Linked DNA regions of Homo sapiens: all the other regions are reported to be linked to region 1. The links are microRNA targets in miRTarBase. Many come from high-throughput screens and were not tested one by one. Region 1 holds a microRNA gene; each other region holds the end of a gene's coding sequence.
The links. The annotated mature microRNA hsa-miR-10b-5p reads UACCCUGUAGAACCGAAUUUGUG and lies in region 1 at 1,739-1,761, opposite strand. An mRNA with a match to its seed (bases 2 to 7 or 8) in the 3' UTR can be bound and repressed. Matches are read on the target gene's strand: a 7mer-m8 pairs with bases 2 to 8, a 7mer-A1 pairs with bases 2 to 7 and ends in A, and an 8mer does both.

Region 2: the mRNA of SCMH1 is a reported target of hsa-miR-10b-5p. The part of its 3' UTR that is shown has no 7-base or 8-base seed match.
Region 3: miRTarBase lists MSTO1 as a target of hsa-miR-10b-5p. The part of its 3' UTR that is shown has no 7-base or 8-base seed match.
Region 4: miRTarBase lists LYL1 as a target of hsa-miR-10b-5p. The part of its 3' UTR that is shown has no 7-base or 8-base seed match.

What each region holds. Positions count from the first base shown.
Region 1 is chr2:176,148,859-176,152,089 of GRCh38, reverse strand. It overlaps MIR10B (microRNA 10b), which reads right to left and starts at 1,787; the gene lies at 1,678-1,787. HOXD4 (homeobox D4) reads right to left here and starts at 540. Exons shown (of 2, transcript NM_014621.3): 1 at 24-540. The coding sequence starts at 456. RefSeq lists an enhancer at 88-821.
Region 2 is chr1:41,025,521-41,028,751 of GRCh38, forward strand. SCMH1 (Scm polycomb group protein homolog 1) reads right to left here. Exons shown (of 16, transcript NM_001394311.1): 15 at 3,064-3,206; 16 at 1,682-2,799. The coding sequence ends at 2,674. SLFNL1-AS1 (SLFNL1 antisense RNA 1) reads left to right here. Exons shown (of 4, transcript NR_037868.1): 2 at 3,013-3,192. Among named protein-coding and RNA genes, the nearest start is that of SLFNL1, 5.4 kb to the left of the region's middle. RefSeq lists an enhancer at 1,345-2,263.
Region 3 is chr1:155,613,812-155,616,811 of GRCh38, forward strand. MSTO1 (misato mitochondrial distribution and morphology regulator 1) reads left to right here. Exons shown (of 14, transcript NM_018116.4): 14 at 248-1,140. The coding sequence ends at 462. It also overlaps the pseudogene LOC100419798. Among named protein-coding and RNA genes, the nearest start is that of MSTO1, 5.1 kb to the left of the region's middle.
Region 4 is chr19:13,096,498-13,099,728 of GRCh38, forward strand. LYL1 (LYL1 basic helix-loop-helix family member) reads right to left here. Exons shown (of 4, transcript NM_005583.5): 4 at 2,536-3,231. The coding sequence ends at 2,822. It overlaps NFIX (nuclear factor I X), which reads left to right. Exons shown (of 11, transcript NM_001365902.3): 11 at 1-2,299. Among named protein-coding and RNA genes, the nearest start is that of LYL1, 4.7 kb to the right of the region's middle. RefSeq lists enhancers at 1-285, 1,531-1,670, 2,878-3,231.

The DNA.
Region 1 (3,231 bases):
AGGTTACTGGACCCTAGCCTTACCCGAATTCACGTGCACCTTCTTCATCCAGGGGTAGACCACGGCCGGCTGCTTGAGTGCCGTCCCGGAGGGCGGCTGCTTGGGGTCGGACTGACTGTAGGCCCGGGCGCCAGGCAGGGGCGCCGGCGGAGGCGCCGGGGGAGCTGGGCAAGGCTCTCCTGGAGCGGCGTAGTGACCGCCGGGGCCGCCTGGCTCTTGTCCGTGACCCCGCGCAGGCAGCGCCGAGCCAGGCCCGGGGCCGCTGCCTCCGAAAGGCTGCTCACCGAAGTCGGGCCGTGGGTAGAGCCCCGGGGGCTGGAAGTCTGCGCCCTGCGCGCCGCCGCCGTAGTAGTCGGCGCCCTGCTCGCCTAGGTAGCCGCCCTGCAAATACTCCTCGCACGGAGGGAACTTGGGGTCCACATACTTGGAGTTCACCATATACGAACTCATGACCATTAATTTCAGAAGGTAGAAAATACTAATTTTTCTCGTGTTGTCTTTTTTTCTCCTTCCATAGGGCCCTCCTACTTGCTGTCAACTGAATAAAGTTGGGCAGCCATGTGACCAGGCCAGCCAATGGCGAGGGAGCAAGTTTATCACCGGGTTGGTGAGCATCTCATAATTTTCACAAATTTAACTAAATAACATACGTGTAATCAAGTAGCTTGCTATGGCACATTTGAGAGCCCCTGCCAGATATTAATGTAGTTCCAGTCCCCAGCACCCCATTCCCCTCAGGTAATCCCAGCTTTTGTCTGCCACTGATTTTGCCAACCTTCCGTGGCCCTTCCACTCACCCCCAGCTGAATGCAACCCCCGCCCCCCGACACCAAGTAGGCACAGCTCAAGGGAGAATGAATCCTCCTATTGGGGTACAGAGCAATGAAAGGTGGGTGGGTGAACTCGCCTCTGAGTTGGGCAGAGTGCCCCAGGCGAGGAGGGTTCCTGCCTGCCCGCCCTGCCTGCAGCCGGCGGGAGCAGGGATTCTGCCATACAAAGGCCGCCGTCCTGGCTTTGTCTTCATCAGGGTCACCCAAAAGTTACCAGAATCTGGCCAGCTTGAATCAAATTAGGCAATGAGTAACCGCCATGCTTTCTACCAGTGCCCAGGCCCGGGGGTTCCCAGCCAAAGCTGGGCCCTGCCAAAATAGCAGGGGGCCCTCGCTGCCCTTGCCCATGTAGCTGGGGGTGGGCTGGGATGGTGGCAAGGGCACCTCCACCTTGTCAAAATGCACCCTAGAGCTCCCCACTGGGCTTCTTTGAAGCTTGCTTTCTTCCCACAGGCCCCAAATACAAGCAAGCCCCCATTTGGGTACCTTTGCACCTCATGTTCCTGGAGGGCAGAGCTGGGACTGGGCAAGCTGGCCTTGTACCTCACTCCCTAGTACCCCAAAACCTAGCCCTTTGGCCCTGCATCCATGCAACCAATTAGGCTTGCATTCTCTCTTTCTCTCTCTCTCTCTCTTTCTCTCTTTCTGTCTTTCTTTCTTTTCAGCACCCAGAGGATACTCTGTTTAAAGGTGAGGAGCTTCTGGAGAGGAAAAGCTGCTCTATGTCACCAGGCGCAGCTGATCCTCCTGGAGTCCAAGGTAATAAAACAGAACGAGGCGGCTGACCAGCGCCGGCTGCTTCTAGTCTCCATGTCGCACTTTGGTCTCTGGCTATTCCGAAGAAACGTGAAGTTTTTGCATCGACCATATATTCCCCTAGAATCGAATCTGTGACTATACGGATACCACACAAATTCGGTTCTACAGGGTATATATAGACAACGTTACAACCTCTGGGTCCCACCCAGAGTGAGGTACCTAGGTCGCTGCCGGCCCCAATCTCTTCCTCTGAGCCACCACCGTTCGACGCAGCCACCCGCACTTTCTGAGACAGTTCAGGTAGCCTAATGGGCTTGGCGACAATTTGAAGCAATGAGTTCCCTCATTCTTCTGCCAGGGTCAGGGTTACCAAGCAGGCGAACAACCAGAATATTCTTCTTAAGAAAGAAAAAAAGAAAGAAAGAAAGAAAAATAATCCATCCCAAGGATGGCGGCTTTATTAACCACCCTCCCCCACCAGGATCCAAATAACCCTCCTCCTTACCAAGTGGTATTTTCCAGAAAGGAACAAATGCCCTCAGCGGCAGAAGAAAAAGAAGCGAGAGGGGAATATCCTGTGTCTACTCCTTTTCCTACTGCCCGACCAAGCCAGGTTGTCTGCCAAAGCTACTTCTCCAAGAAGTCGCGCATTTACCTTCATGGGCCCTGATCCGGGCTGGCCTCTCCGTTCCGCTGCTGCTGCAGACCCCGAGGCAGGCGCTGCTCACAGGCACCGAGCCGCCTTGGGCTGAGGCCGGCGCGCTAATGGTGAAGGGCAGGGCGAGGGGTCATTCGAAATCATTTACAAACATATCACAAACTTTCATTATTTTTGCTTTGCCGACAGCAGCACACAAGAGTACAAAAGTTCACAAATTTCACCCGCCCCAGCGCCTCGGCACTGTGCAGTGCTTGTCCCTCAGTTCAGGGCATGGAGAGCGCAGACTCACTCAGAGCCTCGATGGATTTCAGGGGCACAGGGATGCCCTGGCTCGAGTGGGGCTTTTGGGTGCCTAACTGTAGGCTGAAGGTGTTAGATTTTTTTTTAACTGTCTTGATTGCCCTTCCTACCTCCCACATAATTCAAAATTTAGTTTCAAGCCTGGGCCTGGGCCTGGTGGGGTGGGGCAGGGATACTCCCCCTCCAAGCCTGGCACTTTGCTCATCCCCCCATCCTTTGCTTCCACCACTTTACCTGTTTCGTAGGGATTTTGGGGGCGCCAGTTCTAACAAGGGCTATGAGGCTGCAGAATCTGTTTATCCCAGGAGAGTCCCCCCAATTTCCCTGAATGCCAAAGACTCCCAAGTATCCACCTTCCTGGGACACTGGGCCTAGGCTCTATCCAGACAAATTGGGGGAGCCTGCTGAGCCGGCTGGAGACCGGGGTGAATATACACATTTTCATATTTGTTAGACGCTGTGACCTGCATTTCACCTTATTGCTCGACTTGTTCAGACAGGTCAAAGCCAACGAGTTATTGATGAACAAAAGCGTTAAATATTCACCTCCCGCTCAACTGCCCATACTAATGCTTTTGATCTCTAGGGCTTTTTGTGCTGTGTTCAGCTACAGGGCGCTGAATGTGGGTTTGCTAGCGAGAAGCTTCTGCAGAGATAAGCACCCAGAGCCAGTGCAGGGGA
Region 2 (3,231 bases), not on the chromosome of region 1:
GTCCCTGTGTCTTGAGGGTCACATCTAGAAGTTTGTTGTTAGGGTTCAGCAAGGTGCTCATTGGGAATACCCTGAATGAACAGCACAGTCTACAAGATCCCAGTGTTGGCCGGGTGCGGTGGCTCAGGCCTGTAATCCCAGCACTTTGCGAGGCCAAGGCAGGCGGATCACTTGAGGTCAGGAGTTCGAGACCAGCCTGGCCAAGATGGTGAAACTCTACTAAAACTACAAAAAATTAGCCAGGCATGGTGGCGTGTGCCTGTAGTCGCAGCTACTTGGGAGGCTGAGGCATGAGAATCACTTGAACTCGGGAGGCGGAGGTTGCAGGGAGCCGAGATCGTGCCACTGCACTCCAGCCTGGGCGACAGAGACACTGTCAAAAAAAAAAAAAAAACCCCAGTGTCAAGGAGTTGGTAGAAAATGAGGGCCTCAACTTGTTTGGCAGCCTTGACCCTGACTGTTTCACAGTGACCATGGTTAGAACCTCACAGTGGCCAAGTAGAAAATATATTCTAAGTAAGTTATGATATTGGAACTTGTCACTGGTGAAAGCTTGAAGGGCCTTCACAAGTCTCCTCATGCAAATACCCCATAGCCAGATGGGCCCAAAGAAAGGAAATGACCCACCCAAAGCTTCCTGGCACATAGGTGGGCTGGCTAGAACCTCAGCCTTGCAGTCAAATGTCTGCTTTGGCACTTCCTGCCTGTGTGACCTGAGCTTAAGTTTCCTTATCCATAAAATGGGTTTGTTGTGAAGAGTAAGTGAGATAGTTCTAATTCATGTAAGCAGCTCATGTGGCACACAGTGATATAAGTGTTGGTGGTGGTTATTATCAGGTTATACTGCACTGACCTGCTGCTCCCCTATGCCTTCTCTTCCTCCTGCAAACCCTATACTCCAATTATAAACACGACGTGTGGCCCTGGAGTTGTGTGCCTGGCCCCTGGTCAGCACAAGGGGTACAGTGCAGGCCTGACCTGGCTGTGCTGGCCTGCATCTTTCCCCACCCTATATGGGTGAGGATATGCCCAGCCACTGAGGCTCCTAGGAGTTGCTGATGTAAGATTGCTCCCTCCTGCTCTGGCTTTGCATAGCTGCTGTGCTTACTACTGTCTAGCTGCACCAGAGCAAAGCCCTTTGAGGGTGGAGACTGGATTCACATACTGACTTTCCAAGGGGCCTGTGTGATGCTGGGGCTCTGGTGGACATTCGGAAGACCACCTGTTCTTTAGGGACTGCTGGAATTAGAAGGACGCTTAGGAATCATTTTTTCCAAGCTCTCCATTTTATTTATTTGAGACAGGGTCTCAAATTGTCACCTAGGCTGGAGTACAGTGGTGCGAACACGGCTCACTGCAGCCTCGATCTCCTAGGCTCAAGCCATCCCCTCACCTCAGCTCCCCAAGCAGCTGGGACTACAGGTGTGCGCCACCACAGCAGGCTAATTTTTGTATTTTTTTTTTGTAGAGCTGGGGTTTCACCATGTTGCCCAGGCTGGTCTCAAACTCCTGAGCTCAAGAGATCCTCCCACCTTGGCGTCCCAAAGTGCTGGGATTACAGGCATGAGCCAGCGTGCTCGGCCTCGTTTTATGTATGAGAAAACTAAGACCAAGAGAAGGGGAATGACTGGTCCAATGAATGCGTAGTGATTTGGCTGTTAACTGATTAAAAAGACACTGGTATCTATATTGGTTTTTATTTATAAACAGATTGACATAAAATAAGTCCAGATGGCAGCGTGAGTAGCTGTGCTGCTGACTTGCTTACAAGGAAGCCTGTGGACAGGCGAGTGGGTGGAACCGACTCCAGCCTGGAAAACCTGCCCTCCCATCCCCCTTAGCGCCTTCTTGGCCTTCCGGCCTGATTTTCTTCGACAGCAGTTCTGGCCAGGGCAAGGAGCTGTGGTGGGGGCAGTATAAGCCAGGGACTCCCTTCCCACAGATGAGGCCTAGGGCTGCAAAAGGGCCCCGTGAAGAGAGGAGAAGGTGACAGGGATCCTTCTCCTCCCCATATGGAGTGATGTGGTCAAGGCTTTATGGGTCTCTCCACCTCAAAGAGAAAGTGCCCTAGGGTAGTGTCCTCTGAAGAGGGGCCACGCCTATCTGCAGAGGGCCTCTCTGGGACCAAAGCAGGGCAGTCTCCCTCCTCCTGAAACCCAGTGTCTAGTGTGGGAGGAGTATTAACTACAGGGTTTGCCCAAGTGCCAGAAACAATAAATTAACAATAAGATCTTTTTGTAAAAAAGGTAGAGGTTTGCACCACGAGTTTGGATTCAGGGGAATCTGGTGAGAAGGTACGAGCTGTGGGGCGATGGGGTGCCACAGCAAGACCAGGACAGAGTTGGCCTTTTCCTCCATCACGTGGAAGGCATTCAGCCTAAACTCCTGGTGAGAGGCCAGCCAGGGTTGAGAAATAAATAGAGGGACCTTAGAGCCCCGGCAGAGCTGAGGGAAGAGCAGCACCAGCCCTGGACCCCCACTCTCCCTCCTCAGTCCTTCATGGAAGGACTTATCATGGCAGCTGTGGCTAGGAGTGGTGGCTCCACACAGCCTCTTGGAGTCCTGAGGTGGCCCGGAACCCCACTGAGGTGCCTGGGGTGGGCTGATGCCCCTCATTCCTAGAAGAATGCCCCCACCTGCTGCCACTTGGTTGTCTAGGCTGCCTCTCCTGGTTCAGAACTTGCCCTGCTTCAGCCGGTCAATGTGGTAGGAGAGCTTGAGTGCAGGCCCCAGCTTCAGGCCCATGTACTTCATCATCATGTCACTGCGCAGCAGCAGCAGGGCCTTGCCATCGATCTCCTGGGGGGTGGGGAGGTGGGCAGAAGTGGAAGGGAGGCACCATCAGAGTCCTGGTTGGTCTGACCACCCCAGGTTCTGATTATAGGCCATCCTGGGAAGTGCCCGCCACATGGAGTCCAGTTCACCTGCTGTGATGCTGAAGCCTACCTGTTCTCCTCAGCCTTTGTCTCTAAGCATCCCTCCTCCCCAAACATCTCGTATTGTCCCCACCAGGTGAGGCTCTCCACACAGGTTCCTACTGAGAGGTCAGGCAGCAGCACCTACGTGTTTGCGAAACAGGTCAGCGTGGGGTCCAAGCTGAGGATCAGCTTCCCGGACAAACTGCATCACATCCTCGACTGTCCATGAGGAGGGGTCCCGGCCACTCAGTCGAGAGGCATCGCGGCTCTCCAGGTATCGGTCCGACCCTGCAGGACAGGAGGGCACCTACCA
Region 3 (3,000 bases), not on the chromosome of region 1:
TTTTACTATCTCCATTCCTGGATTAAAAGTGCTGAAAAAGTCCACAGTTAAACATTCCTTTATTCACCCTATGGCTCCCAAGAAAAGCATTCTTCCTCTGGAGTACTGGTGTACTAAGGGGACAATACACCAAATTTGTTGAGTTTACAATCAAGTCTACTAAGGTTGGACTTCCTTATCAGTTTGGCAGAGTCCCAGGGCAGAATAATCATCCATCTACAGGTCTCTGTTTCCTCTCCCTCCACAGCAGTGGAGAGCATCCCAGTGTTTGGGGCACTGTGTTCCTCTTCGTCCCTGCACCAGACCCTGGAAGCCTTGGCCAGAGACCTCACCAAACTCGACTTGCGGCGCTGGGCCAGCTTCATGGATGCTGGAGTGGAGCACGATGACGTAGCAGAGCTGCTGCAGGAGCTACAAAGCCTGGCCCAGTGCTACCAGGGTGGTGACAGCCTCGTGGACTAAAGTTCCCAGTGTGGGAGAAAGGAGCTAGTTTGCAATAAAAACAGCTGGATGCAGGAGCCCAGTGTCTTCATGCAGAGGAGCTCAATGTCGCGGGACTAGCTACACCAACATATGCACTTTTTACATTTAGAAACACTGTGATTAGACCACAGAACAATAAATATGTGCCATCAGACCAAAAAAAAGTAGAGAAAGGAGCTGAACTCCACTCTCGATGCTACTTACAGAGGACATCTGTAAAGTCTTCATAAAAGACCTTGAATGATGCCTAGGATGGCAGAGCCCCTGGGTCCTACTCCATCCTCCAGCCTTTGTCCTTGTCCTGGCCTCCTGCTCTCCAGATCTGTAAACTGGGCTCAAGGACTGTACAAGCAGAGTACAACTACCCGCCTCCCCGGTGCCAGGGCGCCTGTTGGGTTTGGTCCTGTGTAGATGATTCCCAGAGTCTCATTCATCCAGCTCCTCTTCAGACAGAAGGTCCCCATGGTCAGACAGCTGGTCTGCATTGCTGGTACTGGTTGCATCATCCTCATCCTCAGAGCTGGCTTCACAGGCAGTGTGGAAGAGCTGCATGAGTTCTCGAAAATGGTGGGAAACCTAAGAAAGGAGGAGGGCTGTATTCACTGATCCTTAGTAACATGTTAACATTTATGAAGCACTATATATTGATTTGCAAAATCTTTTGTTTATTCCACACAGCAAGGTTGAGAGAGCTATGTCACTATAGATAAGGAAACTCAAGAGGCTAAATGTTTTGCCCAAAGTCACACGACTCCTAAAAACAAAACTAGAATGGCCGGGCACAGTGGCTCACACCTGTAATCCCAGCACTTTGGGAGGCCGAGGCAGGTAGATCACTTGAGGTCAGGAGTTCGAGACCAGCCTGGCCAACATGGTGAAGCCCTATCTCTACTAAAAATAGAAAAATTGGCTGGGTGGTGGGCACCTGTAATCCCAGCCACTCGAGAGGCTGAGGCAGGAGAATTGCTTGAACCTGGGACGTGGAGGTTGCAGTGAGCCACGATCATGCCACTGCACTCCAGCCTGGGCGACAGAGCAAGACTCTGGCTCAAAAAAAAAAAAAAAGCTAGAATGGAAACGGGCTTCCACCTAAAAATGCAGTGTCCTTTCTCTTCTCCTAGAACCACTACCACCCTGATGAGTCAAGCCTTTCCTTAGATCAAACCTTTACAAAAACCACTTATCTTGGATATGAAAACTCCTTCTTTGGCCTTTCTGTCTCTTAGTTGGCCACCTTGACCTCTTTTTGCCAGGTCTTCACCCCAACCCGCACCTACCTCAGCAGGGGTCTTATTTCCCAGCTGCTGGGAGATGATGCTGAAGGTCTGTGGCTGTGCCCCTTGCTCCTGGCACATGGTGAGGATCACACGGTCAGCTTCCCTGTAACCCAGGTATCATGATTAACCCTAGGGAGCCACATGGATGTGGTCTATGCTCTTTTCCAAACACACATCATCCACCCTTACCTACCTTGTCCACAGGACAACCTTTTCCCCAGTGGAGCTGACCTTGCTGTTATTGGCACACACCGTAGCTTCTGTGGCCTTTGGCTGCTGTTCCCCCTCTGGACCCTTGCCCTGTGTTCCACTGTCTTTAGCCAAACCCCCTCTAGGGGCTTTGGGAGAAGTCTCTGAGGTGTCAATTCCTGATGGAGATTCATGGACAGGGCACGTCCTGTCTCTTGTCTTCACCCTAGCTCTGCTTGAGGGCAGCCATCTCTCTTGAGTGTCTGGTTTCCCGGACACATGTCTTCTCCCTGCATCTCTGGTCTTTGAGGAAACAGGACTCAGGAAGGAAGCAGGGGGTTCCACGGTACCAGGCAATTTCTCAGTTTCTGATGCATCCCAGACCAGCATCAAAGCCTCTGACTCACTCACTGCCTTTTGGCCCTCCCTCTCTTTCTGAAGTCTGGGGGATGCCTTGGGGCAGGAGCGAACCTCAGGCCCAACCTGGTTTCTCTTAACAGTGTACAGTACAGCTCCAGTTGTGGGGGGAAATTGAGGAGTCTCTGGTGAATGAGGTGGTGGGCCATCCAGGAGGAGCCGTTCTGTAAGAGTCACTTCTCGAGGGGATGGCAAAGTGCCCCCCACTGCCAATCCTGCTTAGGAGGAAAATAAGGATCCCAGGGTACTGTGAGGATCAAGATGCACCTAAGCACGAGAAATTACCTGTGGCCAGGTACTGTGCAAAAATTCTAATAAAAAAGAGTGCTGGGCATGGTGGCTCACACCTATAACGTCCGCACTTTGGGAAGCCAAAGTGGTGGGACTGCCAGGAGTTTGAGACTAGCCTGGGCAATATGGTGAGACCCCATCTCTGCAAGAAAATATAAATAATAAAGGAGTTGGGTGGAGATGGTGGGCATAATGTCACTTATGCAAAGATATAAAGTCCTACTGCCAAAGCTGAGAACGGCCCAGTCTTTAGGATGTAGATTACACTAGATTTAGAGATGGGGGAAGGGTTTTAGGAATAAAACACAAGACAATGTTGAATCATGTGAAATTTGTAGCACTT
Region 4 (3,231 bases), not on the chromosome of region 1:
GCCCTCCCCCTGTCCTCAGCGTGCAGCCCTAGAGGACCCCAGGGCTGAGGGGCAGTGGATCCTGCGGGAGTCTCCCGGGGCGTGGGGAGTAAGGCCCCGGGGGTGGGGGGCCGGGTGGGCCGGGCGTGACGCGCGGTCAAAGTGCAATGATTTTTCAGTTCGGTTGGCTAAACAGGGTCAGAGCTGAGAGCGAAGCAGAAGGGGCTCCCTGTCCGGCCCACGTGCCCTTTCCCTCGACGACAGTCGAGGGCTCGGGCTCTGTGGGACTGTGGGAGCTAGGGTCTGCGGGGCGCCTGCCCGGGCGAGGTCGGAAGCTGCAGGCCAGCTGGGCCCGGGCCGGAGCGTGCCCGGCGGGGCTGCCCGGGCGGGCAGGGGGTGGGGGCTGCTCCTTTCCCAAGTGGTGTTGTGAGGGGCAATGAGGGCAACAGGAGATGTGGGGACGTGTTAGGAGAGAAAAAAAAAAAAACAAAAATATATATGGGGGAAATTAACTTTTTTTTTTCATTGAACCAAGTGCAATGCATCAGAGAGTTTTCCTATCTTTGTATGTTAAGAGATTAAGAAAAAAAAATTCTATTTTTGTTGTAATGTCCTCGCGGCTCTGGGGACGCTAAAAGAACCGGGCCTGCCCCGCCCTGCGCGGGGATAACGAAAGCTGAGTGTTTTTCCCTTTTTTTTGTTCGTTTTTAGTTTTTTTTTTTTTAAGTCGTTTTCCTGCGTTGACGAGGATGATCTGGGGTTTTTATTTGTTTCGTCGTTCGTTCTGTTTCGGTGGGAGGGCTGAAGGAAACGTTCACATTTTAGAGTTTAAAAAAAACACCTCGACATTTAAAAAATCAACCAACACAAGATCAAAAAGGAAAAGGACGAGAGAAAAATTATTTTTAAGATAATTAAACATAAAACCCTGGTGCTTCTTACATTATAAAGTACGTTTTAAAGAACCCACAAACTATTATACATAAGTTTATGAATCAATTAAATATCCTGCACTTGTTAGGAATACGCATATCCCTTCTTTGTTGAGTTTAACGGAACGGGACAGCGGCGTGCCCCCGGCGGCTGGACTGCTCCGGCCGCGGGTCTCCCCGGGCGCCCCTCCCTGGGGCCCAGCACCCCTCCTCGCCCCATCCCCGTCCGGGTACGGGGGCGCGGCAGGGGTCCCCGGCCCCTCCCCCGCAGAGGTCAATGCCAACGAACAAACGTCCCCTCCCTCCCTCCCTCTCCGCCCCGAGCGCCCTTCTTTGAGCCAGACGCCAACTTGACCCTCACCAGCATTATCAGGAGCGCGCTCAGCAAGTTGGTAGTTTCCTCCCCCCTTTCCCGGCGCCCCTCCCGCCCCCATTCAACATCTCTCATCCTATCCCCGACCCCCTCCGGGGAACACCGGGAAGGCTCGACGCTCCAGGACAGGACCAGCCACGCTGACAGGTCGATTTGCCCAGGCCCGCGCCCGCACGCACGCACGCACACGGCCCCGCACACAGCCCCGCCCCACCCCGCAACCAGCCCTGTCGACTGCCTTATACACCCGCCCCCGCGCTGGCCGGCCGACCTAGTGCCTTGTTCTCACCCCCGTGCTGGCGGAGCGGACGCCGCGCTCTGGGTCCCAGAGGGGCCGGGTGGCTCAGACGACCCACCACTCCCCCACCCTGACCGTGCTGAACAGACCCCCCCACACGAGAGAAAATAAAGGAGCAATAAAGTCACGAGAACTTTCGTCCCCCAATCGAGAGCCCGAGGGGCACCCCAGCCCCGCCTCTGCTCCCCCCCACCCCACCCACCCTCGGGGCGCCCCCCTCCCCCCGCAAGCCAGCCTGGGCCAGCCCCGCTTCGGCCCCTCCCGGGAGATCCGTGCGCCCGACCAGCACCAGCATCGCGGACCGCAAAGGCCGCCCGTCCCGTCAAACAAGTTTCTTCTTAGGCTAAGAAACGCAGTATATACGAGTATCTCTATATATAGTACTAATGGATTTGGTGTGCTTCCCCCTTAGCGTCCCCCTCCCTCTGCTCCTCCTCCTTCAGCCTGGTCTCCCCCTCTTCTCTGCCCTCCACCCCCGTCTCTGCACTGAGATACATAAGAAACAAGGGTAGTTTACTGTCTGTTTTGTTTTCTGGGTTTTCAGTGTCCTAGCGGAATGCAAGTAGGCAGCCAGCCCGTCTGTTCCCTCTCCGCCCCGCCCCGCCCCGCCCCCGTCACTGCGCTTCTGTTATACCATCTTTGCCTGACTCTCTCCGGCTTCTCCATTGAATGGCTAATGTGTATGTGAAATAAAGAAATAAAGAAAAACAAACGCGAGAGCGCCTGACCCTTCGCTAACGCGACCGTGCGGGACTGGGTCGGGGTCGGTAGGGTGCGTCCCCGACTTGGATTCTGCGCCTCTGTCCAAGCGCCGGGAGCGCAGCAGACGCCGTCGACGAGCGTCTGCCCCTGGGTCTCCCGGAGGGGCCGACGGTGAGAAAAGCGAAGCCTCCCCAGCCCCTCCTGGCCTCCCCCCGCGACCCCAGCCCGGAAAAAATGAGGCACCACTTGGGTCCTATGACTGCTCTGCCATGTTGCTTTGCCGACCTCGCCCCTGGGAAGGGGACCGGGCAAGGCCACTTCCAGAGGGTTGTGGGTGATTTTTTTAAGGGTCTGCGGGTCCCTTGGGGGTCGATGATCACCCTTCCGGACCCCCGAGACCTTGCCCCTGACGTCTTCACTGGTCCTTCTTCGGGGGAGTTCGCTCCCGAACATGCGCAGCACGTCCACTGCCCTTTCCTTGACGGCCCTGGGCCGAGTCCCTGGTGCCCTCCGGCTCAGAGGTGCTGCCGCGTGCGGTCACCGCACCTCTGGGCTCAAAGCGGTTTGCTCCATCTTGATGGGCCGGGCCGCTCCACCGGGGCTGCCGTCGGGGTCGGCCGGGGGCGCGGGCTGCGAGCGCGCTGCCGCCTCGGCCCTGCGTCCGGATCCCCGGCGGGCGCCGTCGTCTGGGACCCGGTGCACCGGCCGTTTGCGAGGCCCGGGAGGGGTGGGGCCTGCGGCCAGAGCTGCGGCTTGGTCGCGCAGCAGCCGCACCAGGAAGCCGATGTACTTCATGGCTAGGCGGAGCACCTCGTTCTTGCTCAGCTTCCGGTCGGGCGGGTGCGTCGGCAGCAGCTTCCTCAGCTCGGCGAAGGCGCCGTTAACGTTCTGCTGCCGCCAGCGCTCCCGGCTGTTGGTGAACACGCGCCGGGCCACCTTCTGGGGCT